6 separate regions of the Homo sapiens genome follow, and regions 1, 2, 4, 5 and 6 are each linked to region 3. Evidence: fine-mapped expression QTL. A gene starts in region 3. Each other region holds a variant in brackets. All regions are shown on one strand. Distances are from middle to middle.

Region 1 (5,077 bases), 230 kb after region 3:
ATCCAATTTAAAAATGGGCAAAAATCTGAGTAAACATTCCTCAAAAGAAGACATACAGATGGCCAACAGGTATTTGAAAGAATGTTCAACATCACTAATCATCAGGGAAATGCAAATCAAAACCACAGTAAGATGTCATCTGATCCCAGTTAAGATGGGTTTTAACAAAAAGACAACAAAAAAAATGCAGAGAAAGGGGAACACTTATATACTGTTGGTGGGAATGGAAATTAGTATAGCCACTATGGAAAACAGTATGACGATTCCTCAGAAAACTAAAAATGGAACTACCATGTGATCTAGCAATCCCACTATTGGGTATATGTCCAAAAGAAAGGAAATCAGTATATCAAGGAGAGATCTATATTCCCATGTTTATTGTAGCATTGTTCATAATAGCCAAGATATAGAATCAAGCTAAATGTTCATCAACAGACAAATACATGAAGAATATGTGGTACATATAGACAATAAAATATTATTCAGCCATTTAAAAAAGAATGAAACCCTGTCACTTGCAGTAAAATGACTGTAACTGGAGGTCATTATATTCAGTGAAATAAACCAGGCACAGAAAGACAAATACTTCATATTCTCACTTGTACATGGTGATCTCATGAAGGTAGAGGGTTGACTGCTGGTTGCCAGAGGCTAGGAAGGAAGGATGAGGAGAGATTGGCTAATGGGTACAAAAATACAGTTAAAAGGGATAAGAGGCACTGTTTGATAGTACAATATGGTGACTATAGTTAACTATAATATATTGCACATTTCAAAATAGCTAGGAGAGAAGAATTGGAATGTTCCCAACATAGAGAAGAGATCAATGTTTAAGGTGATGGATATCTCAATTACCCTGATTTGATCATTAAACATTGCATGCATGTATCAAAACATTACACGTACTTCAAAAAATGTATGACTATTACATACCAGTAAAAAAAAAATTCAAAAAAAAGATTTTAGTGTCAAAGTTATGCTATTTTTATAAAATAAGTAGATAGTATTCCCTCTTATATTGTCAAAAAGAGTTGTATATGTTTGGAATTATTTATTCTTGAAATTATTGGTATGACTTATGTGTAAAACCTCCTACTGTAATCTGTTTGCTTGTTTGCTTGCTTTTTATGGAAAGATGTTTAACTACAGATTCCATTTGTTTGTCATAACACCATTGAGGTTTTCTATTTTTGAGTTGGTTTCATTAATTTACATTTTATGAAACTTTGCACATTTCATGTTTTCAAATTCATTACCATGAAATTATTCATGACATCTTCATTGTATTTTTAGTCTCTGCAGCATTTGTGATTATCTCCCCTTCTCCCACTACTAATATAGTTCATCTGTTCATAAGCGATGTCCATCTTTAGTCAGAAGGAATTTCACTGCTGATTCCTTCTCGTTCTCCTAAATCCACAGCACAACAGAGAAAGCCCAGAGCCAGGGAACACACTATAATCTTTGACTTTACAGATACCTAAGCAGCCTTAAGTATTCATTTATTCCTTATTAACCAAACTGTAATGCCTATGAGCCACTTGGACAATCACCCAATTTTAAAGCATCCAATATAAAATATTAGAAAATTTAACAAATTAATCACCAAAATAATCAAGAATAAACAGGACAAATTTTGACAAATCTCCCACATTCTTAGGCAGGGAAACATACATAAAAAGAAAATAATAATGTAACAATTGTAGAATTTTATAGTAGTTTCGTGGCAAATGTTCAAATTGTGAACCTGGATTTGGCATGCCACAACTCAATACATAACATAGTATAATGTACACATTATAATGCATGTATAACCCATAATAGTCACTAAGCATATCTAAACATATCTACCATTCAAATTAAAATAGTTTTCATAAGATATCCCCCCAAAAAGGAATGTATTTCACTAAAATTATATAAGCATGTCCAAATTTGTTATTCACAGGTTCACTGATTTTATTCCT[C/T]AGATTCATAGTATCATTTGCTGGTCTCTGATTGCTGTACAAACTCCTTCCTCACTGTTTCTATTGACAACTGATACCTGACTTATTCTCTAGGAGTGCTGCTCTGAATGATCAAAGCTCAGAACAAGTATGAAGACATGTTTTCAGTGGGTAGAGGCAATGGGGAAATTCTCACTTTGGCTCTTTCTCCTCTAACATTTATAGATTTAAACTGTCATTGTACTAATGTAGTAACTTCTAAAATTCAATCTTGAGCAAGAGCAGAAGGGGGCCATTTAGGCCTGGAGTCAAAGGAGATACTCTGTGGCCCAGCCCAGTGATTCCTAAACATTTACTCACAAGCACCCTAAAAAGATGTGGAAAAACTATATCTCCTCTCGTACATTTTGTAATTGGCATTTAAGATTTTTAAAGAAACTATTTAAGCTTAAATAGTTGCAAGTGATATAACTTCTCGCACATTATAATACTGACATTTTAAATAAAACTGCTACTTCACTCTTTTAAATGTATCCAGCGGAATCTAAATGCCATAGCAATTTGACACCCACCATCAAACATTTTTAAAAGACAAGGTACTTTTAAAGCTAAAAATTTCAGAAGATTCTTTTTTCTTCTTGAACTTGTATTTATATTCTATCCTCCCACAGAATTTTATCCTAATATATATTTGTACTTGAAAGTGTTATTGATTACCTCATCATATTCTTCTGCAATGAACATATGTATATTATTTAAATTTTTCTGTTGCCATAAGTTTCCAAATGCTAAAAATTTACTTCTGATACAATTTTTATTTATTCACTGTTGATCAAAATAGTACATGTAACTTATAAATCCTGACAAATATCAAACATAACATTGGAAATGTATCTCATAGATGGGACTTTCTCCAATTAGTTCATGAAGCTAAGAATGAATGTTACTTAATTATACAGAGTTCAGCATCAAAGCTACTTGTATTTCCTACTTTTATTTGTAAGCACTGACAATATCATTTCAAATAAATCAGTTGACAAAAATAGATAAACGTTTTCAACAATGTAACTCAATTCTTTGAACCCTTTTTAAGTTATATGTTTGAAACATCACATAGACATCTATTACCAAAAAAGTAAAAGTCTATTAGTTGACAAAAAGTTAGACACCACTTGATTTGGAAAATGACTGGTTATTCAGTCGTTAAAGTCATTCACTTTCTTAACACTGGCACCATATTTCAAATATCCCTCTGATGTCTTAGAGATTTTTTTGCATCAGTGTAATGCATCTACACCGTTCTGCATAGGTGAGAAACTTGCTTTTCTTTTTCAAATAGAAGGATAATTGGAAAAGCGAGAAGGGAAAGACACATCAGCAGGATTTCTTGGTTACAGGCTGGTTCTCAGGCAAACAAATTTTAGAAAAGAGTATGTGGAAACTGAGTATCTGGAAATGTATTCCCTTTAAGCTACCAGTAGCAGTATATAGCCAAGGTGTGCATAAGGATTACTGGTATCACAGTTTCCTAGACATCTCTACTTTAGGAACCACGTGCAAGATAATAAGCAGTTCAATCAATCTAATCCAATAACTATTTAATAGCTGGCTACAGGTTGTGAAATAACAGGTTGTAAAAATGTAAAACAAAGAATAAGAAGAACATGATTTGGGCCCTCCCAGAAAGAGGTAGTCGAAAAGCTCTGGAAAGACAAATAGGAGTAGGGACACTAGATGATGAGGATGCGAGGGCTTAAAATACAGCAGATGATGGAGCAAGTACTGGAGGCGTCCACGTGTGCCAGGAAAGTCTGAAAGTGAGGAAGGTGGAAGCTGGTATAGGTGGAAAAAAAAAGATCCTTTGTTTGAATGTGAAATGTGGGATCAGGAGCAGTCTCCCATTAAGAGGTTTTAAAAATATGAGCATCTACAAGAGAGAGACAGACCTCAGTCAAGGAAAGAAAGTAGGGAGGTTGTGCCATTGCACTCTAGCCTAGGCAACAAGAGCAAAACTCCATCTCGGAAAAAAAAAAAAAAAGAAGAAGAAGAAGAAAGTAGGGAGGAAGCAGTTGTTAAAAGGAGTTTGTTAACCACAAACCAAAAAACCTTGCTGCTTTGCTTTTCTTGACTCTTTTGCACATTTATCTTTCTAAGGAGCACTTGCTTAGAAGAAAAATGGCTTGGCCAAGGCAGAATATTCTTTGATTTTTCTGGCATAAAAACCTTCTTGGGAGCTATGGCAGTAATTGTAAATGACATGATGCTGGAAATATCCTTGAGTTCCTTCAAGAGAGAAACAGAATGAGCAGAACAGGTGAGTAAGGCTGTAGGAATGTGATACCATGGTAGTGCCCATAGGTAGCACCAACACTAATGTAGCATCAAGATGCCAGGATTCCCGGAACCACAGGAAGGGAGAAAGTCAGAATTTTAAGCTTCATCTATAGACCCAAAGGGAGAACAAGGAGGCTTCAGTAAATCCCTGGGGTGGGGTAACGATATTAGTGCTTTTGATGCAATTATTTGAAAAATGAAACACTTTATTTCCATCGATAGTTGGATGTGTTTCACCAATAAGCTTTTTTTAATCGACAAATAATGATTGTATATATCTATGGGGTACAGTGTGCTGTTTTGATATATGTATAGATTGTAGAAAGATTAACTCAAGCTGATTAATATATCCATCACCTTCCCTAAATAAGCTTTTGACGTAGGTGCTGAAACTGAAAATGTAACCAGTGCCCAGGGTCTGAGGCAGCTGCAGAGGAAGCCACCCAGATTCCACCCACACCCACCCTCCCCAGAAAGGATTCATGTGGCTGTAATTGGGGAAAAAAAGAAATATTCTTAAAAGCTAATTTCTCTGTAGGATCAGGGTGCAGAATATGCAATTTAGAGACATAACTTTTGTATGGAGATATGAAAATGGGAGGAAAACAAAACCATTCAATAGAGGGCATTTTCTATTACTGGCATTGCATTAAATTGGGCTATACTGCCATCTGCAGGTCACTGTAAAACTGTGCAGTAACGAAACTTAAGACGCTGTATCCAAAAGTAAAATCAGGAAGAATGAACAAGCAGCAGAGATAAACTCCATTGCACTGTGTTCGAATTAACTGATTTCAGTT
Region 2 (5,077 bases), 41 kb after region 3:
CACACAAGAACTTCAAAACGCCTAAGCCACAGCAGTCAGGCATTTCTTCAGGACCTCCTCCCCCAGTATCTTGTTTCAAGTGCTGGAAATCTGGCCACTAGGCCAAGGAATGCCCACAGCCTGGGATTCCTCCTAAGCTGTGTCCCATATGTGCAGGACCCCACTGGAAATCGGACTGTCCAACTCACCTGGCAGCCACTCCCAGAGCCCCTGGAACTCTGGCCCAAGGCTCTCTGACTGACTCCTTCCCAGATCTTCTTGGCTCAGTGGCTGAAGACTGACACTGCCCACTTGCCTCAGAAGCCTTCTGGACCATCACAGATGCTTTCGGTAACTCTTACAGTGGAGGGTAAGTCCTTCCTCTTCTTAATCAATATGGAGACAACCCACTGCACATTACCTGCTTTTAAAGGGCCTGTTTCCTTTGCCTCCATAACTGTTGTGCGTATTGACAGCCAGGCTTCTAAACCTCTCAAAACTCCCCAACTCTGGTGCCAACTTGGACAATATTCTTTTATGCACTCCTTTTTAGTTATCTCCACCTGCCCAGCTCCCTTATTAGGCCAAGACATTTTAACTAGATTATCTGCTTCCCTGACTAGGCTACAGCCACACCTCATTGCCACCCTTTTCCCCAGTTCAAAGCCTCCTTCAAATCCTCCCCTTGTATCTCCCTACCTTAATCCACAGGTATGGGACACCTCTACTCCCTCCCTGGCAACTGGTCACATACCCATTACTATCCCATTAAAACCTAATAACCCTTATCCCACTCAATGCCAATACCCCATCCCACAGCAAACTTTAAAAGGATTAAAGTTTGTTATCACTTGCCTGTTACAGCATGCCCTTTTAAAGCCTATAAACCCTCTTTACAATTCCCCCATTTTACCTGTCCAGAAACTGGACAAGTCTTACAGGTTACGTCAGGATCTGTGCCTTATCAACCAAATTGTTTTGCGTATCCACCCTGTGGTGTGAAACCTCATATACTCTCCTATCCTCAATACCTCCCTCCACAACCCATTATTCTGTTCTAGGTAAACCTAGCTGACCCCATAGATCCTAAATCCTTTCTCCACTCCCCTATCCATTCCTTAAAAAACAGCTCCCACACTAGCTCTCCCTAACTTATCACTCCCTTTCCACTACACACAGCTGAAGTGCAGGGCTGTGCAGTTGGAGTTCTTACACAAGAGCTGGGACCACGCCCTTTAGCCTTTCTGTCCAAACAACTTGACGTTACTGTTTTAGCCTAGCCCTCATGTCTGCATGTGGCAGGTACCACTGCTTTAATACTTTTAGAGGTCCTCAAAATCACAAACTATGCTCAACTCACTCTCTGCAGTTGTCATAACTTCCAAAATCTATTTTCTTCCTCACATCTGATGCATATACTTTCTTCCCCCCTCCACTACCTCTCAGCAAGCCGAACTCATTGCCTTAACTTGAGCCCTCACTCTTGCAAAAGGAGTACACATCAATATTTATACTGACTCTAAATATGCCGTCCATATCCTGAACCACCATGCTGTTATATGGGCAAAAAGAGGTTTCTTCACTACACAAGGGTCCTCCATCATTAATGCCTCTTTAACAAATAGTCTTCTCAAGGCCGCTATACTTCCAAAGGAAGCTGGAGTCATTCACTGCAAGGGCCATCAAAAGGCATCAGATCCCATCACTCAGGGCAACACTTATGCTGATAAGATAGCTAAAGAAGCAGCTAGCATTCCAATTTCTCTCCCTAACTGCCAGTTTTTCTCCTTCTCATCGGTCACTCCCACCTACTCCCCCACTGAAACTTCCACCTATCAATCTCTTCCCACACAAGGAAAATGGTCCTTAGACCAAGGAAAATATCCCCTTTCAGCCTCACAGGCCCATTCTATTCTTTTGTCATTTCATAGCCTCTTCCATGTAGGTTGCAAACCGCTAGCCCATCTCTTAGAACCTCTCATTTCCTTTCCATCATGGAAATCTATCCTCAAGGAAATCACTTCTTAGTGTTCCATCTGCTATTCTGCTACTCCTCAGGGATTGTTCAGGCCCCCTCCCTTCCCTACACATCAAGCTCAGGGATTTGCCCCTGCCCAGGACTGGCAAATTAATTTTACTCACATGCCCCAAGTCAGGAAACTAAAATACCTTTTGGTCTGGGTAGACACTTTCACTGGATGGGTAGAGGCCTTTCCCACAGGGTCTGAGAAGGCCACCGTGTTCATTTCTTCCCTTCTGTCAGACATAATTCCATGATTTGGCCTTCCCACCTCTATACAGTCCAATAACAGACAGGCCTTTGCTAGTCAAATCACCCAAGCAGTTTCTCAGGCTCTTGGTATTCAGTGGAAACTTCATACCCCTTACCATCCTCAATCTTCAGGAAAAGCAAAACAGACTAATGGTCTTTTAAAGACACACCTCACCAAGCTCAGCCTCCAACTTAAGGACTGGGCAGTACTTTTACAACTTACCCTTCTCAGAATTCGGGCCTGTTCTTGGAATGCTACAGGGTACAGCCCATTTGAGCTCCTGTATGGATGCTCATTTTTATTAGGCCCCAGTCTCATTCCAGACACCAGCCCAACTTGGATTGTGCCCCAAAAACTTGTCATCCCTACTATCTTCTGTCTAGTCATTCTTCTATTCACCATTCCCAACTACTCATAAATGCCCTGCTCTTGTTTACACTGCCGGTTTACACTGTTTCTCCAAGCCATCACAGCTGATATCTCCTGGTGCTATCCCCAAACCACCACTCTTAACTCCCTCTTAAAGTAAATAATCTTTGCTGGCAGGGCACCCTCCAATACTTTCACCCTGATGAAGTCCTATTCTTTACCTTAAACTCACTCTTATTCTCGTTTCTGTTCTTATGCCACCCTCTACCTCTCCCCAGCTATCTCTACCACACTATCAATCTCACTCACTCTCTCCTAGCCATTTCTAATCCTTCTTCAACAAACAATTGCTGACTTTGCATTTCTCTTTCCTCCAAAATCGCCAAGGCCCCGACTTACTGCTAAAAAGGGGGGACTCTGTATATTTTTTAATGAAGTGTTGTTTTTATCTAAATCAATCTGGCCTAGTATA[C/T]GACAACATAAAAACTCAAGGATAGAGCCTAAAAACTTGCCAACCAAGCAAGTAATTATGCTGAACCCCCTTGGGCACTCTCTAATTGGATGTCCTGGGTCTTCCCATTCTTAGTCCTTTAATACCTGTTATTCTTCTCTTATTTGGGCCTTGTGTCTTCTGTTTAGTTTCTCAATTCATCCAAAACCATATCCAGGCCATCACCAATCATTCTATACACAAATGCTCCTTCTAACAACCCCACAATATCACCCCTTAACACAAAATCTTCCTTCAGCTTAATCTCTCCCACTCTAGGTTCCCATGCCACCCCTAATCCTGCTCACAGCAGCCCTGAGAAACATCGCCCATTATCTCTCCATACCACCTCCCCAAAATTTTTGCTGCTCCAACACTTCAACACTATTTTATGTTATTTTTCTTATTAATATAAGAAGATAGGAATGTCAGGCCTCTGAGCCCAAGCTAAGCCATCATGTCACCTGTGACCTGCATGTATACATCCAGATGGCCTGAAGCAAGTGAAGAATCACAAAAGAAGTGAAAATGGCCGGTTTCTGCCTTAACTGATGACATTACCTTGTGAAATTCCTTCTCCTGGCTCAGAAGCTCCCCCACTGAGCACCTTGCGACCCCCGCCCCTGCCCACCAGAGAACAACCCCCTTTGAATGTAATTTTCCACTACCTACCCAAATCCTATAAAACGGCCCCACCCCTATCTCCCTTTGCTGACTCTCTTTTTGGACTCAGCCTGCCTGCACCCAGGTGATTAAAAAGCTTTATTGCTCACACAAAGCCTGTTTGGTGGTCTCTTCACTCAGACCCATGTGACACAAACCATGTTAAGAACCTAAGAGACTAACAGCATCCTTGATCCCATCTCCATGAGGAAATGGGTTGGGGCTGCAGAATGAGGCAATCCCCACATTCAGTTTTGCCAGACACTACTCCTCCACAACTGAAAGTGGACAACTGAAAGGCATCTAGAGTGTGTGTCTATCAGAGATCTCATTTTGGAGGTAGCGGGGGTATGATCAAGATAATCTCCTCTTTTCCCTAGGGGCTTCCTCAGTCTCTAGTCTCAGGCCACACAGACCATGAGGAGTGACAAATGGATCTGCATGGGAAACACCAGGGAGGGAGAAAGAAACAGTATATGCTCCCCTGCTGCCCTACCCTCTCCACCCACCTCAAAGATTCTGAAACAATTGAGTTGGTGAGTGCGAATAGTTTGCAGCAAGTTTTATTATTAGCCCTGAGAACAAAGGCTTCCCTTTCTCCCCTGCTGCCTTAGGTCTCTCCAGAATCTGCCTGGCTCCACCTTCTCCAGTTGGCTACCAGGGAGGACCAGGCTTCTCTGCCAGCCTCCCCAGCCACAAACTGTCCTTAAGTGAAGGGGCAATGGGGCGATGGGAGGAAGGAGTCCACACTCCAAGGGAACTGGCTGGTTGCTGCTTAACAACTGTTCATTGTTTCTAGGCCACTCTGCAGTTCCCTCCTCTCTCCCATGTGAGTGACAGAAGCTGGGTGGATGGCAGAGCTGCTGCATTGTTTAGGAATAATGGATTAGACACATGGCAATTCAGTGGTTTCTTAAGCAGAGCGCAGCACTGCAGTCTCGATAAGGTTGTAGGCTTGTTTACAAGCTGTAAGGCAAATTGTTACACTGTGAACTTAGCAAAGCAGGGGCTAATATTTCCATTCTCAATGGGTAAACTGAGGCTGGAAATTACAGACTACCACAATTCAAAAGGACTAGCCCAGTTGTCTGTTAGTAAAGAAACAAAAAAGGGCCAGAGAGAGCAAAGGAATGTGATCAAGATCGCAGGCGGGCATCCAGGGCTAGAGCTCTGGACCTATGGCCATGAGCAGAAGTGCTTTTTTTTTACTGTTACATGCATTCTCCATGTTGTCCAAGCCTTTCTCCCAATTCCTCACTGTCCCCTTTCAGTGCTGACTTTTCTCAGCCATGACTTTCTCCCA
Region 3 (5,077 bases):
AGAGAAAGACTATACAACTGAGAAAGAAGATAAACAGAGGAATACCCTGGGCCGCCTCCTCCTCCTAGGAATCATATAGTCTTCATCTTTGTCTTTCAGAAGCTGCTTGTAGAAGAGAAAAATATTTCTTTCAAAAAATAAATCACAAATACTATAAACATATAAACCTACATATGTACTCATAAAAATTAAGAATAAATATAAATAAAAACCAAAAATTAATACATCTTTTTTATTAACAAAAAAATCTCTAGCAATTGCTTGTGAAATGGTATCTTTAATGAGTGAGGTAATTTTGACAGATAGACATAGTATTCTGCAGAAACTGAAAATATTATATTTCATGCAAATCAAAACCACAATGAGATACCATCTCACACTACTCAGAATGGCTATTATTAAAAAGTCAAAAAATAAAAGATGTTGGCGAGGTGGCAGAGGAAAAGGAATGTTTATACACTGTTGGCGGGAGTGTAAATTAGTTCAACCCTTGTGGAAGACAATGTGGCGATTGCTCAAAGACCTAAAAACAGAAATATCTTTAGACTCAGCAATCCCATTACCGAGTATATACCTGGAGGAATATAAATCATTCTGTTATAAAGACACGAGCACATGTATGTTTGCTGCAACACTATTCACAATAGCAAAGACATGGAATCAACCCAAATGCCCAGTGATGATAGACTGGATAAAGAAAATGTGGCACATATACACCATGGAATACTATGCAGCCATAAAAAAGAATGAGATCATGTCCTTTGCAGCAACATGGATGGAGCTGGAGGCCATTATCCTTAGCAAACTAACACAGGAACAGAAAACCAAATACCGCATGTTCTCACCTATAAGTGGGAGCTAAATGATGAGAACACATGGACACATAGAGGGAAACAACACACACTGGGGCCTATGGGAGGGTAGAGGGTGGAAGGAGGGAGAGGATCAAAACAAATACCTATTGGGTACTAGGCTTAATACCTGGGTGATGAAATAATCTGTACAACAAACCCCTATGACAGGAGTTTACCTATGTAACAAACTTGCACATGTACCACTGAACTTAAAATAAAAGTTAAAAGAAACTATTATATTTCAAGAGTCTTAAAAATAGCTGCAATTTCTTGAGCATTTGCTGTAAGGTAGGCGCTGGACTGAATACTCTGTATTCCTTTATTCTTATAGCTCTACAACCACTCCTGTAAGGTTATCCCCATTTAGCAGCTAACAAACTGAGACCTAGAGATGTTAACGTATCCAAGACTACAGAGCTACTTGATGCCAGAGCTTCACTCTAAAGCCTGCTCTCCTAACCATCAAACTATCAATGTTAACAAAATGTTGACATTTGGGCCAGGACAATTATTCCTTATACTGAAGAGTCCCATCCCTTCAAAAGCACTTATCATCATTGGCCCTCAGGTACTAAATACCAGTATCAGCTTCCCATTTCTTTGAAAATTAAATCTCTCTCACATATTTCCAAACTCCCTACCGAAGTTATATTCTCCATTTCCCAAACATATTGGAAAACAACTGTTAAGGAAAACATTGAATTCTAGAAACTTAGGATTTAAAAGAGTTGTTAAGTTTCCATTAGTTCAGCTTTTATAGTTAATTTGTACGGAAAAGAATAGTAAATAAAGAGAATTAGGGCGTGTTGGATTTAGCATTTTACTTGTTGACTGTGAAGCTAATTCTCAGAGAAGCACATATTTAGCATCTACTATGTCCTGAGAAAATATGTTAGATATTTTCATGCCTACGTAAAAGGAATAGCGTGGGAGAAGGGTTGAGTGAGAAACAGAGAGAATTGTTATTTTCCTCACATTATACTTGAAGAAAATAATGTTTTGAGAACTTAATTTGCCAAGCAAGAATTTTATTTAGGATTATTTCTACCATATTATAGCTATACTATGGATACTCAATGGAGTTGTCCCATTGATGATTGGAAATGGAATTTAGAAACATGGTAAAAAAAAAATCTAACTATACCTATAGCCAAAAAATCAGAAAGAAGGTAATGAACATGTGAAAATCAGTCACAATTAACACATTAGAGGAGTGCCTTGTAGAATAAATATTGTGATATACATTCATAAATAAATGATTTAAAGAAGGAAACAGTAGAATCAGGAGAGAGACAGAAAGAAGATATCCAAAATGCAGCAGCATCCTACGGAGAAGAGTGTTCAGAGATACTGGAGAAGCGAGGAGGGATAGTTAGCAGTGCTGGATGCTCCCGGTGGGTGAAAGTGATTGAGGCCTGGGAGAAACCTTTTAGAGTTCAACAAGCCTTTTCCAAACTGAAAACCAATAAACTGAAGACATCTTCAGGGTGTAACCGATTTTAAAAGTTCAGCTTTGAAAACGTTGGGGAAAGCAGTCATTTACTACAAAAACAAAAACTTTGAAGTGGTTTGAACATAAAACAAAGTTAAGAAACTAACAGAAAAAAAAAGTAGTCAGTATTCAAAAACAAGCTTCGGGGGAATTTACCAGAGTATGAAAGTTATCAACACAGAGCGACTGGCTCAGAGCCCTCTCAAGTGTGTGATACGACTGGAAACTTCTTCTCTGAGATAAACGCCAGATCATTTATGAGAGAGAGCTTTCCCATTTTCAGACAGCTCTCCTGAGGACAGAAGGATTTATCTGCAGCAGTGGAATTCTAGTTATATGGTAGGAAGACTCCTGCACACACCTCTTTAAATGGACTGTACCTTTGCCTTAATAGGAAAAGATCTCCTGTTTTTCTGGAAAGACAGAGGCAGCTCTGGGGCAGGAAGGTCTTCCTAGTTGTGAGCACCGTGTCTACGGATGGTTTGTCCTTCGCTCAGTCTCCTGAGCCGGAGCAAAGGATGTGGCTGGGCCAGGAGGCGGGGACTGCATCTACATGTGTGGATGTGTGTGTGTGTGGTGTGTTCTCATTTCCGCTTCCCCTTTTGAGCAGGCAACAGCAGTTGAATGAGTTCAGGGAGAAAGGCATAATCTACAACATGATACTTTCTCACTTGCTTCACCTCTGTGCCCACACCTGTGAAGGCCTCGGCCCAGCTTCGACAACTGCTTTGCCTCAAACTCAGCTTTCTACCAGCAGACAGGTAAGCACAGCCTTTATCTCAGTTTCAAGGCTGTACTGATTTAGGGTGATGCTAGGAGAAAGAAGGAAACATGTCAGAGAAAAATCAGGCTGTCAAGTCAAGGGAAAATCAAGAGAAAATCTCCCACCACTCTTACTTCAACCTTAAAAGCATCCATCATTATGCCTAGGAGAACGATGCTGGGTGCCCTTTTGCTTTCGTTTGTTTGTTTTCTCTTTATTATCAGAGAGGTAATCTTTCTAGATTCTCAAAACTTGGGTCTCTTTGATGACTTGAATAACATTTTAGGAATTTTTTTTCACCTTTCTCACCTGCAAAGTTCTTCTCTGTGTCTTGCTGAACTCATTGTTGCTGCAATTTCCATCTGATTATAACATCGAAAAGTTCTCAAGGAAGAAGTTTCCCGGTTTCATTTCAGGCCCTACTCTAGTGTCCATAGCTCCAACCATTGAGAGTACCTGGCTGAAATCAACTTTGCTTTCTGTGGGTATGACCTCTTTCTTCAGAAGCTGTAGAAGAAACTTGTTGAGATAAACTGCAGCAAGATATATTGAGGTCAGCTACGAGGGAGGATGTACACACTTGAGTGAGGTAAGGTCAAATTCACCGGGAGGCTCAAGATAGATGGATAGCCACCATCAGGACCAGATTTCAGGGTTCACATCTCAAAGATAGATAGATGGATGTGTTGCCTTCTCAGTGACCTACATAATATTGGGGGCTTCATGCTCCTCCAACACCCCTTGCCCCAGTGGTAGCAGGCAGAGCATATCACCACCTACATGAGTTTTGGGGTAGATGGAGGAGTGGAAAGATCCTCCACCCTGGGGTTTTCCCATGCCCCTTCTGTGCCACTAAGCTCACCAGTGGGTGGAAGAAAAAGGGTGGGTCCCCAGGGCAGGGCAAGGACAAGAAAGGAGAGTTCCACAGAAGTGATTTGACAAGACTGTGAGCATTTACAGGAGATATCCAGGGAAGTACTAGTGACTCTGTATACCACAAATGGTCCTGAGTAGAGAGGTAAGGAGACTTTCTAGATGGTGCAGGGCAGTACCTAGGATGGGAGGTTGGAGGTAGGAACCTTCAACTTGTGTGTCCAAGTATCAGACTCAATAGTTGTTCAGCTGAGTGATTAGAGATAAAGATCTCACAATATTGTCTTGCAGCATGAAGTGTTAGTAGGAAGAAGGGAAGTCAGGTTTATTGTCTGTCTCTACTTGGACTATTATCAGAAATAACAAGCTGAAGATATAGCAGAAGGGATAGAAAGCAATTTAACATCTGAGTTATTCGCATGCACCCCAGGGTGTTTAGAAACCATTTACAACCACGCTACCAACATGTTCTCATAACTCTTGGGTTTTTTGAAAATTAAGATGGAACCCTGCGATTCAGCATTATGTAGTGAACATGAAGCCCCAACCGTCATTTTCAGTTCAATGTTTGATTTGGATTCTAGTATGGAGGTCTCGTCTCAGCCAATGCTGTGACTTACAAGATTCCTTCTGGGCTACAGTAAGGGGAAAAGATCACACGTTTATTTCCACCTGCAAACTGACAACTGTTCTCTTTTCCACCTAAGGCACAAGACCAAAGTGGATATTCCAGTACCCACAGTACTGTGTGCCTTACAACACCCAGGCCTGATGCAGAATGGCCTAAACACAGATTTCAGATTGAGAAAAGAGTTCAGTCAAATAAGTAGAGGGACGAGGAGAAGAGAGTGTGTAGATATTGAAAAAGAAAAGCAGGAAAGAAGAAAAATGAATATATGCAGGACAGAGCTTATTACCAAGGAAATGAAACTGAAGAATTAAAGATACGAATTCACAGAGCTAACACAATGGTTGAGAAATCTGCTCATTCTCCCTACTTTCTCTTGATGAAGCCATCTATAAATCAGCTCAGATAAACTGCTGTTTCTTATTCTTGATGTCTTTATTGCCCATTCAAATGAAGATATTTGATGT
Region 4 (5,077 bases), 250 kb after region 3:
AAATAATATTATTACTGTTACACACGTCTGTGTGAAGAGACGGCCAAACAGGCTTTGTGTGAGCAATAAAGCTTTTTGATTCCCTGGGTGCAGGCAGACTGAGTCTGAAAAAGGAGTCAGCAAAGGGAGATGGGGTGGGCCAGTTTTATAGGATTTGGGTAGGTAGTGGAAAATTACAGTTAAAGGGGTTTTCTCTTGAGGGTAGGGGTGGGGGTCACAAGGTGCTCGGTGGGGAGCTCCTGAGACTCATTGTCCAGGAGAAGGAATGTCACAAGCTCAATTGATCAGTTAGGGTGGGACAGGAACAAATCACAGTGGTAGAATGTCATCAGTTAAGGCAGGAATTGACTATTTCACTTCTTTTGTGGTTCTTCAGTTGCTTCAGGTCATCTGGATGTATCCGTGCAGGTCACAGGGGTTATGATGGCTTAGCTTAGGCTCAGAGGCCTGACAATTACTATAGACTGAAAAACACTTTCAGATGTTGAAGAAAAGTTTGTAAGATTTTTCCAAGCCTATCAATCCTAGATACAAAGTTCTTTTTAGAAAATTTGTCACTGAGTTATATTTTATTGGTGCTAACAAGTATTTCACTTCAGTCTTTTGTACATCAGACACTTGTATAGCAAGGCAGGTTTGTGATAAATTCTTCTTGATCTTCTTCACTTGTGTATGGGCATTGGAGGAGCTTTCCCCTTGCCCTCAGAGGGTTTGCTGAAAAAAATCAATTTACAGTAAGGCAGATTAATAGGACAAAAAGCATACAAATTTATTTAACCATGTGCTCGAGAAGAATCATAGAGTGATTACCCAATTTCCCAACAGGGCCCAGACACTTCTATAACCTCTTTCAGAGGGGAGGGGGAAGATGGGGAATATAGAGGTAATTCTGGTTGAGGGGCATTAAATAATTACTAAGGAAAAATGAATAGGTACTTAGGAGAATGAATGGAAGGTGAGAACAGAAATTGACTTGTAAATGGTTTTCTTTGGAAGTTAAAAGAACCTGAGAGACAGGTATTATTTTGTAAAATGGTTGGTTCTGGTATGGTTATATTCTTCCTCTTCTTTCCTGAAATAGTGAGATAACAGGGAAGGGAAGAAAAGGCAATTGTTCTTGATGGGCCTATCTGATCTTTTTGAAGTTAGGGGATAAGTTTCTTCTGAGGCCTGTTGATTTATAAAGTCTTTTAATTCAAAATATACATTATACCAAGGAGCTTATTCATTCTCCCTGTCTGGAACTCCCCTAGAAGTTTCACACATAAAAAGCTGAGTTAGGCCGGGCGCGGTGGCTCATGCCTATAATCCCAGCACTTTGGGAGGCCAAGGTAGGTGGATCATGAGGTCAGGAGTTCAAGACCAGCCTGGCCAAGATGGTGAAACCCCGTCTCTACTAAAAATACAAAAATTAGCTGGGTATGGATTATAGGCGGGCACCTGTAATTCCAGCTACTTGGAAGGCTGAGGCAGAGAATTGCTTGAACCTGGGAGGCGGAAGTTGCAGTGAGCCAAGATCACACCACTGCACTCCAGCCTGGGTGACAGAGTGAGACTCTGTCTCAAAAAAAAAAAAAAAATCCTAAGTTAGTGGCTCTGGAGAGAGAAGTTGGTTTAGTAGCTGGGTAGTAAGAGATCTGAAAAGGAAGAAAAGAACATAGATTAAAATGAGAAAAGAACATATCTAAGCACACTTCCCCACACCCCATTAAACCAGTCTCCCATTCCCAGGAATAGGTCAGACCAATAGAACAGTTTAGCCTTGTTTACCTGATGGATAATATTTTACCTTGACCTTCAAGAGGTGCAGATCAGTCTCTACTTGCCCTGAGCGGTTTATGTAGAAACAGCATTTGTCACCAATAGCTGCACAAGCTCCTCCCTGTTGGGCTGTCAGCACATTCAGGCTGCAGCAGTTCTAAAGTACAGCAGAAGCTGGACTGTTGACTTCTGACTGGAGTGCTCCCAAGGCTTGGGTAGTGATACTGAAGTCTTGTTCTATTGCCATGGAAAGATTTTAAACTGCCCTTTCATTTTCTTAAGTTCCAAATGCCAGGGGAAAAGTTCTGAGGACTGAAAAGAACATAGATTTGTGATATATAGGTGGGTTTTTTACAAAGTCACATTCATTACCTCTGTGTGGCACCACTTTATGAACAAAAAGGCCCATTTGTAATTTGGCTGCCATTTAAAGTGGAGTACCTAGTAACAGAGGATGTCAGATAACTGAGTCCACAGCACCCTGAGTATCTAGGTGGGAACCACTTGTATATCTTGTTACCACGCAATATTAAAAGGCCGCTGTTATTTACAGATAGGGTCAGGGTGAAGCCTGTGGCGCCTCAGCCTGAAGTTTGCTGTGCCTTGTCTTCTTTGTTATTGGCATTTCCACATCTGCAGCTATCATGTCTCCCTGTCAATCTGTGGGAGCAAAACAGGTTGTGAAATATTTTATATAAAAGACCTTTAGTTTTGGCTGTTATAGGGCTTGGTTTTGTCACCTAGCCAAATCAGTCCAGACTTTGGGTCTATCCATATGTAATCTTTAGTATCTGACAGGTAAGCTACCCCAAGTTGCACACCAGGGCTGGCTTGTGAGCCATCCATAACATCTGGTGATTTGATAAATATTGATTTCATGAGTCAGCATCAGGACCACCTATGGTCTGTGTAAGAAGTGCAAGAATGCCATCTGTGGAATCAAACTATAAGGTCTGATTGCAATATTGCCTAGTATGTCACCTAGCAAGGGTCCAGCATCATTCCTGTTTTCAATGCAGAAGGAAAATTTTCTTTCTAGTAATTTTATCTAAGCAAAAGACAGTTTTGAGCTTCCATGGTGGCTTTTCTGTGTCCAGTTGACTTACCATAAGAGAGGCAATGTGACTTTGTTTCTCTGGTTCTGGATGCCATATCTTGTCATACATCCATCTTCTAGACTGAATCCACCAGGTGCTCATACTGGCAGAAACAAAAATAATTTCAGGTTCTTTTGCATCATCTAGATATTGGCATAACCAAAATTAGACTGACTAATGTTGTCAGGATTTAAAAGACTGGTGCAAAGGGTTTGTGCCCGACCGTCTAGAAAAATAGCAAGAATTAGTAAAAGCAAAGCACAGTTCAAAAGAAGAGTCACAGCGAAAGATCAAAG[G/T]GAGTATGAGAGAGATAAGTTCAGGCAATCTTTAATCACCTTTCAATTAAAAAGTCAAGAAACAATAGATGCTGGTGAGGCTGTGGAGAAATAGGAACGCTTTTACACTGTTGGTGGGAGTGTAAATTAGTTCAACCATTGTGGAAGACGGTGTGGCCATTCCTCAAGGATCTAGAACGAGAAATATCATTTGACCCAGCAATCCTATTATTGGGTATACACCCAAAGAAATATAAATCATTCTACTATAAAGAGACATGCACACGTATGTTTATTGTGGCACTATTTATAATAGTAAAGACACAGAACCCACCCAAATGCCGATTGATGATAGACTGGATAAAGAAAATGTGGCACATATACATCACGGAATACTATGCATCCATAAAAAGGAATGAGATCATGTCCTTTGCAGGGACATGGGTGGAGCTGGAAGCCATCATCCTCAGCAAACTAATACAGGAACAGAAAATCAAATACCACATGTTCTCACTCATAAATGGGAGTTGAAAGATGAGATCACATGGACACAGGGAGGGGAAAAACACATGCCGGGTCCTGTCGGGGGGTGGGGGACAAGGGGAGGGAGAGCATTAGGACAAATACCTAATGCATGCAGGGTTTAAAACCTAGATGATGGGTTGATAGGCGCAGCAAACCACCATGGCACATGTATACCTATGTAACAAACCTGCACGTTCTGCACATGTATCCCAGAACGTAAAGTAAAATTTTTAATAAAAATCCCCATGGTGTTCATTCAGCCCAAGAAGAGAAGGTTTAGAGGTGTCAGTAGGTAAGGAGTGACTGAACACTATTTTAAAAGGGGCTAATCCCTGTCTCCTATTTGAAGTGTTAGAGATTTTTATAAGGGCCAGAGATAATGCTTCTGGCCATTTAAGTCCACTATCTTGACAAAATTTTCCCAAAATTCTTTTTCTGTCTAAATTTTTAGGTTCCACTTGCCCTGAGGATTGGGGATGATGTGGGGTATAAAATTTTAATGAGTACCCCAGAGCCTCTGCAAGCAAGTGGTTTATTTCTGCTGTGAAATAAGTCCATGGGTCTGACCCAATCCATAAGGGAATAGCAAAATGAGGAATAATCTGCTACTTATTTATTTACCACAGCTGTAACATCAGCACACCTAGTTGGATAACATCAGTCCACCCACTGAACATGCAGAAAAATAATGGAGCAGTGAGAAAAGCACAAAGCTGGAGGTAAATCCATAAAGTCTATTTGGAGCGCGGCAAGGGGCAACATGGGCCTTTGGGGGCTTCCTGAGGAATATTGGTTTCCTCTAGAGATTTGGTGATATTTATAAATAGTGCACTGGGAAATAATTTGGCCATAAATTTTATAGTTCCCAGGGCAGTACCAACTATCTTTTAATTTATTAATTATTCCCCATTTGCATATACATCCCATCTGATGGGAGATAAGTGCAAGGCAAAGAGTTAAAAGGAAAGGGGCTATGGGGGTCTATTTGGCCCAGTATACAACCCATCTGATAATTGTTTGGCACCCTTTAATATCCATTTATCCTTTTTCACATTGTGAGGCACTAGCCTGATAATCAATAATGTTAGACAGGGATAAGGGCAGATTAATAAATTGAGTATAAAAAGGATAGGGAGGGCCATTTGGCCACAGATTTAGCAGCCCTGTCTGTTCAATCATTTCCTTGGGGTACAGTATCCATATCCTTGGTATAAGCTGGGTAATGAACAACAGCAATCTTAGTGGGAAGGTGGATAGCCTATAATAGGCCAGCAGTTATAGGCCCATTGGCAATAGAAGTGCCAGCAGAGGTTAAGAAACTACAGGATTTCCAAATTGTACCAAGTGTACGACAGTTTCCAAAGGCATATTTGGAGTCTGCATAAATAGTGGCAGTTTTTTGGTTTTGGTTTTTGTTTG
Region 5 (5,077 bases), 21 kb after region 3:
GAAAACAGGATATACATTGTATGAATTCAGGATAGGATGGAAGTGCAAAACTTCAGAAAGAAACAGCCCATCCCTGGGGTCTTATCTACAGGGAAAGGGCAGTCTCATTATTATCTAATGTAAAATGCAGAAGGCATCACATGCCCAGAAACACCTCCTCATCAGCCTACCATGACTCTTACTGGTTCATCACTGGAACTTTCCTTTGGCCCCTGGGATGATAACATATAAAATTACTATAATGTTTGCTGCCCAGATAGCTTTAAGACTGTTTTCTGTACAGAAACTCCAAACAAGTCTGTGCATTGGATGTAAAATAGAGACTATACTGCAGGAGGAGAAGGACATCAGTAAAGAATGAAAGCACAGCAACCTACCAGTGTCTCCTGGGAGCTGTAAAGACTTGTGTAGGGGGACAGGAACACTAGCCAGGAAGGCCAAATGACTCTATCCTTTTTAGGACAGAGGGGCTCTTGCCTAAACATCAGTCATGGGTCAGAAGTTCATAGGGTTAAGGCCAGTTACTCTCTGGCATATCTGTCCCTATTCCAGAACTGTGTTAGGTAATCTTGAGGCCCCAAGAAGTGCAGAATTTATGGGGTCCAGCTAGCCTGTCATAGTCACAAAAAGAAACAGAGGGGACTGAGTTTTAGGTTCAGAGGGGCAACACAGGTGATTTTCATTTTCCCTTCTAATTTGCTCTTTGCTTCTCTGTTTCTTGTCCAGCCACACTACTGGCCGCCAATGGCAAACTCTTCTCCAGGTAAGTGTTAGGTTCAGCCAGGGTGAATGATGTCTCCTTTAAGAATCAGTGAATTGGGGTAGGTCAAAGAGATTAAAATAAAGAGCTAAAGATTCACATTAGAGAGTGAGACTTTCCAACGAACAAGCACTGCATAGACTACTGTTCAGGGGGTGAATAAGTCCAGCAGGGATTCCTCGAAGCCAGGGTGCAGACTGGAAACAAGATTTGTATGACATCAGCTTTGATCTCTGCAGGAGTTTCCTCGAGACAGCCAGGCCTTGCCAGCTACTTGATCTTGGCTGTAGTTTGGCTTCCAGCAGCATGACTGGGGGGACCAACAAGACTAGTTCAAGGTAGGTACTGAAGTTTGGCAGGGTGGAAGGGTGGAGAAGATGAGAAGCATAGGAGAATGGAACCAAGAGCCATTGCCTGTTTTTTCTGGGATATCTTACTGGAGCTTTTATGCACTTTTACTGCATACTTGAAAAATGTGACCATATTTGTTTCAAGAATTGTGAAAGACACAGAGGAGTCTTCTCAGAGCTGAATACTATGTGTAAAATACAGGTGTCTCCTCCCACTGAAACTTGTACCCCAGGAGGTATAGTACTGGTACCATCACAGTTCCAAGACTCAGAGTAGGTGCTCAGTAAACAATGTATTGATTAATTGACTAATTTGTTGACTGAATGAAGCAATAAAATATTAATTCATTCGGACAGGCAGGCCAGGCAATGACTGTATGGAATTTGAAAAAGATGAAGCAGCACTATTCACAATAGCAAAGACATGGAATCAACCCAGCTGCCCATCAGTGATAGACTGGATAAAGAAAATGTGGTTCATATACACGAATACTAGGCAGCCATTAAAAGGAACGCGTTCGTGTCCTTTGCAGGGACATGGATAGAGCTGGAAGCCGTTATCCTCAGCAAACTAACACAGGAACAGAAAACCAAACACCACATGTTTTCACGTCTAAGTGGGAGCTGAACAATGAGAACACATGGACACAGGGAGGGGAACAACACACACTGGGACCTGTCAGGGGATGGGGTGAGAGGAGGGAGACCATTGGGAAAAATAGCTAATGCATGCTGGGCTTAATACCTAGGTGATGGGTTGATAGGTGCAGCAAACCACCCTAGCACACGTTTACCTATGTAACAAACCTGCACTTCCTGCACATGTACCCCAGAACTTAAAACAAAAATGAAAATAAAAAAAGAAAAGATGAAGCGGACAAATAGCTTGATCCCAGGAGCTGAATGATTTCATAGGGTGGACAAAATATACACACAAATAACTCTTTGAAAAAGATGAAAAGTCAGGAAAACTAGTATGATATAATGAAAAGTATCTGAAATTTGAAGTCAAAATTTGAATTTGAGACCTGGTTCTGAGACTTAAATTTTGTCACATGACCAAATTTAGTAATTTATCCTCACTGAGCCTTAGTCCTAGTTCATACCCTAGTTCAATTTAATCAGAATGTCTGAAGATGGGATTCAAATATATGCATTTTTAAAGCCTGCAAAGGTGACCCTAACATGTAGCCATGGTTGAGAAGCACTGATCCAGTTTTACGCCCACAATTCACAGATAGGGAAACTTAGGACCATGGAGATAAAAGCTGGCAAGGACAAGAGTAGATCCAGGGATTCCGACCGTCCAGCTATTAGCTAAACAAGATGGTCCCTATTTGATCAAAAAGCCCAGCATACTTTCTGAAGAGAGTGATAGTGATTATTCAAAGCCTCAAATAATAACAGCTTCCCTTAGCCTCACTGTCTGAAACACAATTACTAAGCTCTAGTGTCACCCAAGTTGGTGGAACTCCGATTTAGACATAAATCCAGGTTGATACCATAAAGAGAGAGTGCGTGCACGGGATCTTCTGTGACACAGGACTTCTGTACTGAAAATAGTGCTAGAAAGGAGCATACCTCTCAAAATCAGGTTTTGGATG[T/G]GCTTATTGATTACTTTTTGCCCTAAGATCAAGAATAAAAATGTTTACCTTCAGGGGTTCTATGTTTCTTACATATTCATTGCTTAGTTGTCCCACGCAACAACCACTGGGGCAAGTCGGATGGCAAATTTGGGAACTGAGCACTTAATGATGCAACTGTGAAATTTATTTGTATCTATGCTGCTCTTATTTTTCAAAATCCTTTTATATTTACTTAAATTTTTATTCGTCTGCAATAAGTTGTTCAAAGTACTGTACTAAAATTTTATTCAGTTTTTATAACTAGGGTTGGATTGTAGTTTCCATGTTTCCAACAGATAATTTAGGTTCAGAGAAGTGAAAGCTTTTCTCAAAGTCACAGTGAAAAGTAGAGAAATGGACAGAAAAGAATTTCAGTCTTCTGACACTTTTATTAGATATTCTGATATTCTGAATTACCATGTGTCTCAAAGTTGTCCCTTATTTACCCAAACTCCCTCATTTCAGCATCTCAGAAATTCTGGACAAAGTGCAAGAAGATGCAGAAGATGTCCTCTTCAGTCTGGGCTTTGGCCAAGAGGATCACAAAGACACTTCTCGGATACCCGCCCGATTTTTCACCACCCCCTCTCAGGCCAAGGGCATTGATTTCCAGCTCTTCCTGAAGTCCCAGGTGCGGAGGATTGAAATGGAAGACCCCTGCCTCATGCTGGCCAGTGAGTGTCCCTCCCAGGCACCTGCTCTACTTCCCTTTTCCTTTAGATTTTCACAGCAGGGCTCAGTGGCTTCAAATCCTGCTTTCTCTTGGTTATCTTTAACCCTTTGCCTATTGTGTCTATTTCCTCTTATGTTGTCTTCAGTGAAGATGGAGAACTCTGTCTGATTCTTTCTCTTAAAGAAATAGCCTTTAAGAGACTTCAGGCCACTACTGCTTCCTTTAGGCCTTCTTGCCTTTCAGTCAATCATATCAGCATGATGTCTATAAATCTTATCCCTCTTTTTTGTTTCCCAGTTGGAATATCTACATGGGATGGGGTGTCAAGAAGTTACGAAATTCCAGAAAAAGAGTGTTAGAAATCTAAAAGGGAGAAACACTAGTAGGAAAATTGGAAGCTTCTCCCTGAATTTTGAGCTTTGGGGAGCCTCCTGAAGGGAGAGATTTAAGAAGATTTGCTGATGAACCCCAGACTTACCATCTTTAACTCTTGTACCCAGGCAGGTTTAAGCAGGTGCAAACACTGGCTGTCACTGCTGATGCCTTCTTCTGTCTCTACTCCTATGTGTCTAAGACACCTGTCCAAAAGTTCACACCATCCCACATGTTCTGGAATTGCAACCATCCAACTGATGTGCCATCCATCAGGATTCTGTCCCGAGAGCCTGAACCCCAGTCACCCAGAGACCGCCTTCGGAAAGCCATCTCCAAGATGTGTCTGTACACATGCCCCCGAGACCGGCCACCACCACCCCACAACACCCCCAAAAGGAACAGTTTGGACCAAGTTGTGTTGGAAGTGATGGACAAAGTGAAAGAAGAGAAGCAGTTCCTCCAGCAAGACTCTGATTTGGGGCAATTCTCACAGGAAGATCCTGTGCCCCCTGCTGAGGGTAAGAAGTTGCCCACTTCTCCCTATCCATGTGTCTTCTGCTGTGAAGAGGAAACACAGCAGAGGATGTCCACAGTGCTAGCACCATCCCAAACTCTGGATTCGAACCCCAAGGTACCCTGTTGCACACATTCTCTGCCCATAGAAGATCCACAGTGGAGCACAGACCCAGCTCAGATAAGGAGAGAGCTGTGTAGTCTACCAGCCACCAATACGGAAACCCATCCAGCCAAGGATGAGACTTTCTGGAAAAGAAAGAGCAGAGCAAGAAAGAGCCTCTTCCAGAAGAATCTCATGGGCAGGAAGGTTAAGTCCTTGGACCTGTCCATCACCCAGCAGAAATGGAAGCAGAGTGTAGACAGACCAGAACTGCGTCGGTCTTTAAGCCAGCAGCCACAGGACACTTTTGACTTGGAGGAGGTAAGTGGGTTGGAGGTGAGGGAGAGACTGGCAGAGAAAGGCTGTAGATTCTTTCCCAGAAGATGAAGGGTTAGAACCCTTGGGGGAAAAATAATCCAGGCTTCCTGTCCTAGCCAGATATACCACTTTCTGATTTCAATTCAGGGTTAATATACAGGGAGAAAGAGACAGAGGCCTGGTTTCCTAAGAGCAGTCGAGTTTTCAGAGCTCCTTTGGTAATACCTGATCTGATTGCCATTTAATGTTCCCATTAAGTACACCTCTCATCACCATTTGTTGTGGTCCTCATGAGATTACAAATGGAGAGCAGTTTTACACAAAGCTAACCACTCTTAAATAAAATAAATTCTCCCTTAC
Region 6 (5,077 bases), 190 kb after region 3:
TGACTAGTGTGCCATTCAAGCGGAAAATGGAACAGGTGGACTGAGCATTTTCTCCAGTGTTAGCCTCTTGCTTATACCATTGCAGTAAATGAGTAAAGTCTTAACTCTCATTTTTGGCTTCTTGCTTTAATCCACTACCTGAAAGCTCATCTCTCTCTCACCTAGGACCTAACAGGACACAGAAAATAGGAGAAGGTTGCCAGTACCCAGAAGGATACAATTACCCAAATTTGTGCCAGGGCCTCAAGAACCAGCAGAATCCCAATGCTGGGCAAAGTAAACAAACAGTAGCCATGGCTGAAGCCAAGGACATGCTGCTCCTTTCTGAGAACACACAGTGTTTCTGTATTCACAGGACTCGTGAGTGGGAAGATGCAGAAGAACCCTGGGTGCCAGGGCAGATTCTGCAGCAAATCATGGAGCCAGTGAGAATAGGAAATAATAATATGAAAAATTATATTACTGAGTCATTATAAGATACATTTTAGTGTAACACTTTATTTTTATATCAAGTATACACACATCAACTTATTTAATTCTCATAAAATCACTCAATATTATTCTTACCTAGATTTTTAAAATATGGAATTTGAGGCATCAGAGTGGTAACAGGATATGAGGACTTGCTCAAGATAATAAACCTCCTGATCACTGAAACTCAAACACAAACCAGGACTTGAAATTTGTTTCCAATTTAGCATAGCTTTGGGTCTCTTAGGTTAGAATTGAAGCCCCAATCAGGATATCTGGGGTCTCCAGGTCAGGAATACACTTGTCTATTTTCCATCTTCACTCACCTTTAAAGGACATAAAAGTGAAGTTCTTGACTTCTAAGTATGCTGTAATGTAAGAGATAGAAGATGCTTTTCCTTTATCTCTATATTTAATTTTTTATTGTGCACTATTTATCATAGTTTGTACCATATTAATGTTGTTTTAATTTTACTAATTATTTTATAATGCTATTTCTGTTTGATGCCAAATTGTTAACACTTCAATATTTATAAACTAATGAAATACAAATTTATGTTTTTGCCTATTATGTTTTAGAGAAATGTGGTAGGATAATGCAAATATTTCCCAAGTTCAGATATTTGAAAGTCCTCTCTAAACCCCACAGGGAATACTAAGATATTTAAAGGCAAAGGATATGGTGCAGCAAGAGAAAGAGCGTATAAACGAGCATTGGAGTCCGAGAGACAATCGTGCAGAAGTTCCCAGGGTTCTCATTGACCCAGAGAGGTACTCTGTTTCCAGATGAACCACCAAGATCTGTGCAAGAAATCCTAGCTTCAGGAAAGTGTAACACAGAAGTTCCCAGCGGGGTTGTTATGCCCCATTGGGCACATATTTGAGCCAGTTTATGACACTTGTAAATTATCAACAAACAAACTGGCCTGGGGAGTTTCTGACATCATAAATCCCACTGCCCTTATTTTGACCAAGAGCCAAAGGCAGACATCCAGGAGCCTCCAGAGATAAAGTTAGAGTTTTTTCGATTCAGCTGTAAGTCAACTAAATCCCCTATAGTTCACCCTCTGACTCTTGGGCAAGGCTTTTTAAATAAAAATTGCTCCTCATCACTCCTCCTTCTGCATCTTTGGCAACATTTAGGAGACAAAAAAAAAAGCAAAGGAATAACTGCCAAAACTCTAATTAATTTGTATCATCAGATAAGGTTTAAGTAAATCAGTAAAATTAATTTTGCCAGTAACCTGAGTATTACACCAGATAGTTGTATTATAAGTTGAACGAAGATTATAATATAAATCAGTAATCTTACCAATGACACCAATATTACACCAAAGAGTAGTTATATTATGAGTTCAACTAAGATCACTGTAAAATAAATCAGTCCAAATTACAACAGTATTTTCTCAGCCTTCCCTATAGAGTGGCCCTTGTCGATATACCAAACGCTATCATGGATTGGTGTATGAATCAAGGGCTAAGTTCAAGTTAATTTTGGATTCCAAGTTTCTTATGGGCCTCATCATATACCCTGTTTCATTCTGTCTTTCCCAAGATAACATCATATGGGTAATAATCACCTCCAATTACATTTTAGTTTCAGCGTGCCAAACAACTTCCCGTAAGCATGTTCAGCAGATGTTATGGTTACGCACTGTGTGAATGAGCCCCCAAGAAGTAACCTCTAAACTGTCTGTCTTAGTCACCTCAGGATACCACAACAAAATGCCATAGACTAGGTGACTTAAACAACAGAAGTTTATTTTCTCATAATTCTGGAGGCTGGAAGCTCAATATTGGAATGCCAGCATGGTGGGGTTCTAGTGAGGGCTCTTATCCTGGCTTGTAGACTACCACCTTCTTCCTGTGTCTTCACATAATGGAGAGAGAAAGCAAACTCTCTGCTGTCTCTTTTTACAAGCGTCCTAATCCGATCACAAGGACCCCATACTAGGACCTCATCTAGACCTAATTAACTCCCAAAAGTCCTATTTCTAAGTACCATTACATTGGGTGATGGGTTCATTCAACAATGAATTTTGGGGGACGCAACTAAGTCCATAGCATTGGCATTAGTTCCTGTTTCTTTTTTTTTTTTTTTTT[TTTA/A]ATTTTTTTTTTTAATTATACTCTAAGTTTTAGGGTACATGTGCACATTGTGCAGGTTAGTTACATATGTATACATGTGCCATGCTGGTGCGCTGCACCCACTAACGTGTCATCTAGCATTAGGTATATCTCCCAATGCTACCCCTTCCCCCTCCCCCGACCCCACCACAGTCCCCAGAGTGTGATATTCCCCTTCCTGTGTCCATGTGATCTCATTGTTCAATTCCCACCTATGAGTGAGAATATGCGGTGTTTGGTTTTTTGTTCTTGCGATAGTTTACTGAGAATGATGGTTTCCAATTTCATCCATGTCCCTACAAAGGACATGAACTCATCATTTTTTATGGCTGCATAGTATTCCATGGTGTATATGTGCCACATTTTCTTAATCCAGTCTATCATTGTTGGACATTTGGGTTGGTTCCAAGTCTTTGCTATTGTGAATAGTGCCGCAATAAACATACGTGTGCATGTGTCTTTATAGCAGCATGATTTATAGTCATTTGGGTATATACCCAGTAATGGGATGGCTGGCTCAAATGGTATTTCTAGTTCTAGATCCCTGAGGAATCGCCACACTGACTTCCACAATGGTTGAACTAGTTTACAGTCCCACCAACAGTGTAAAAGTGTTCCTATTTCTCCACATCCTCTCCAGCACCTGTTGTTTCCTGACTTTTTAATGATTGCCATTCTAACTGGTGTGAGATGATATCTCATAGTGGTTTTGATTTGCATTTCTCTGATGGCCAGTGATGATGAGCATTTCTTCATGTGTTTTTTGGCTGCATAAATGTCTTCTTTTGAGAAGTGTCTGTTCATGTCCTTCGCCCACTTTTTGATGGGGTTGTTTGTTTTTTTCTTGTAAATTTGTTTGAGTTCATTGTAGATTCTGGATATTAGCCCTTTGTCAGATGAGTAGGTTGTGAAAATTTTCTCCCATGTTGTAGGTTGCCTGTTCACTCTGATGGTAGTTTCTTTTGCTGTGCAGAAGCTCTTTAGTTTAATTAGATCCCATTTGTCAATTTTGGCTTTTGTTGCCATTGCTTTTGGTGTTTTGGACATGAAGTCCTTGCCCACGCCTATGTCCTGAATGGTAATGCCTAGGTTTTCTTCTAGGGTTTTTATGGTTTTAGGTCTAACGTTTAAATCTTTAATCCATCTTGAATTGATTTTTGTATAAGGTGTAAGGAAGGGATCCAGTTTCAGCTTTCTACATATGGCTAGCCAGTTTTCCCAGCACCATTTATTAAATAGGGAATCCTTTCCCCATTGCTTGTTTTTCTCAGGTTTGTCAAAGATCAGATAGTTGTAGATATGCGGCATTATTTCTGAGGGCTCTGTTCTGTTCCATTGATCTATATCTCTGTTTTGGTACCAGTACCATGCTGTTTTGGTTATTGTAGCCTTGTAGTATAGTTTGAAGTCAGGTAGCGTGATGCCTCCAGCTTTGTTCTTTTGGCTTAGGATTGACTTGGCGATGCGGGCTCTTTTTTGGTTCCATATGAACTTTAAAGTAGTTTTTTCCAATTCTGTGAAGAAAGTCATTGGTAGCTTGTTGGGGATGGCATTGAATCTGTAAATTACCTTGGGCAGTATGGCCATTTTCACGATATTGATTCTTCCTACCCATGAGCATGGAATGTTCTTCCATTTGTTTGTCTCCTCTTTTATTTCCTTGAGCAGTGGTTTGTAGTTCTCCTTGAAGAGGTCCTTCACATCACTTGTAAGTTGGATTCCTAGGTATTTTATTCTCTTTGAAGCAATTGTGAATGGGAGTTCACTCATGATTTGGCTCTCTGTTTGTCTGTTGTTGGTGTATAAGAATGCTTGTGATTTTTGTACATTGATTTTGTATCCTGAGACTTTGCTGAAGTTGCTTATCAGCTTAAGGAGATTTTGGGCTGAGATGATGGGGTTTTCTAGATAAACAATCATGTCGTCTGCAAACAGGGACAATTTGACTTCCTCTTTTCCTAATTGAATACCCTTTATTTCCTTCTCCTGCCTGATTGCCCTGGCCAGAACTTCCAACACTATGTTGAATAGGAGCGGTGAGAGAGGGCATCCCTGTCTTGTGCCAGTTTTCAAAGGGAATGCTTCCAGTTTTTGCCCATTCAGTATGATATTGGCTGTGGGTTTGTCATAGATAGCTCTTATTATTTTGAAATACGTCCCATCAATACCTAATTTATTGAGAGTTTTTAGCATGAAGGGTTGTTGAATTTTGTCAAAGGCTTTTTCTGCATCTATTGAGATAATCATGTGGTTTTTGTCTTTGGTTCTGTTTATATGCTGGATTACATTTATTGATTTGCGTATATTGAACCAGCCTTGCATCCCAGGGATGAAGCCCACTTGATCATTGTGGATAAGCTTTTTGATGTGCTGCTGGATTCGGTTTGCCAGTATTTTATTGAGGATTTTTGCATCAATGTTCATCAAGGATATTGGTCTAAAATTCTCTTTTTTGGTTGTGTCTCTGCCTGGCTTTGGTATC

Direction of the effects. Alleles are on the strand shown, and positions count from the first base shown. SD is a standard deviation of normalised expression in the study named. Not every link is listed here.
For the expression in prefrontal cortex of the gene that starts at base 2,930 in region 3, allele A in region 6 goes with a lower level than allele TTTA (small effect, 0.34 SD a copy in CommonMind).

What was found.
Region 1: its variant is fine-mapped to the expression of TESPA1 in whole blood (INTERVAL, PIP above 0.99).
Region 2: its variant is fine-mapped to the expression of TESPA1 in whole blood (TOPMed, PIP above 0.99).
Region 4: its variant is fine-mapped to the expression of TESPA1 in whole blood (INTERVAL, PIP 0.94).
Region 5: its variant is fine-mapped to the expression of TESPA1 in whole blood (TOPMed, PIP above 0.99).
Region 6: its variant is fine-mapped to the expression of TESPA1 in prefrontal cortex (CommonMind, PIP 0.95).

Annotation. Positions count from the first base shown.
Region 1 is chr12:54,749,261-54,754,337 of GRCh38, reverse strand. No RefSeq gene overlaps it. Among named protein-coding and RNA genes, the nearest start is that of MUCL1, 100 kb to the left of the region's middle. The variant C/T (reference allele first, on the strand shown) is at 1,965.
Region 2 is chr12:54,941,388-54,946,464 of GRCh38, reverse strand. It overlaps the pseudogene LOC105369778. Among named protein-coding and RNA genes, the nearest start is that of TESPA1, 41 kb to the left of the region's middle. The variant C/T (reference allele first, on the strand shown) is at 3,094.
Region 3 is chr12:54,982,615-54,987,691 of GRCh38, reverse strand. TESPA1 (thymocyte expressed, positive selection associated 1) reads left to right here and starts at 2,930. Exons shown (of 11, transcript NM_001136030.3): 1 at 2,930-3,107. LOC107984515 (a long non-coding RNA gene) reads right to left here and starts at 2,841. Exons shown (of 2, transcript XR_001749161.2): 1 at 2,727-2,841.
Region 4 is chr12:54,731,579-54,736,655 of GRCh38, reverse strand. No RefSeq gene overlaps it. Among named protein-coding and RNA genes, the nearest start is that of DCD, 86 kb to the right of the region's middle. The variant G/T (reference allele first, on the strand shown) is at 3,155.
Region 5 is chr12:54,962,074-54,967,150 of GRCh38, reverse strand. It overlaps TESPA1 (thymocyte expressed, positive selection associated 1), which reads left to right. Exons shown (of 11, transcript NM_001136030.3): 6 at 727-763; 7 at 1,000-1,098; 8 at 3,201-3,409; 9 at 3,909-4,720. Among named protein-coding and RNA genes, the nearest start is that of TESPA1, 20 kb to the left of the region's middle. The variant T/G (reference allele first, on the strand shown) is at 2,715.
Region 6 is chr12:54,792,104-54,797,180 of GRCh38, reverse strand. No RefSeq gene overlaps it. Among named protein-coding and RNA genes, the nearest start is that of MUCL1, 60 kb to the left of the region's middle. The variant TTTA/A (reference allele first, on the strand shown) is at 2,575.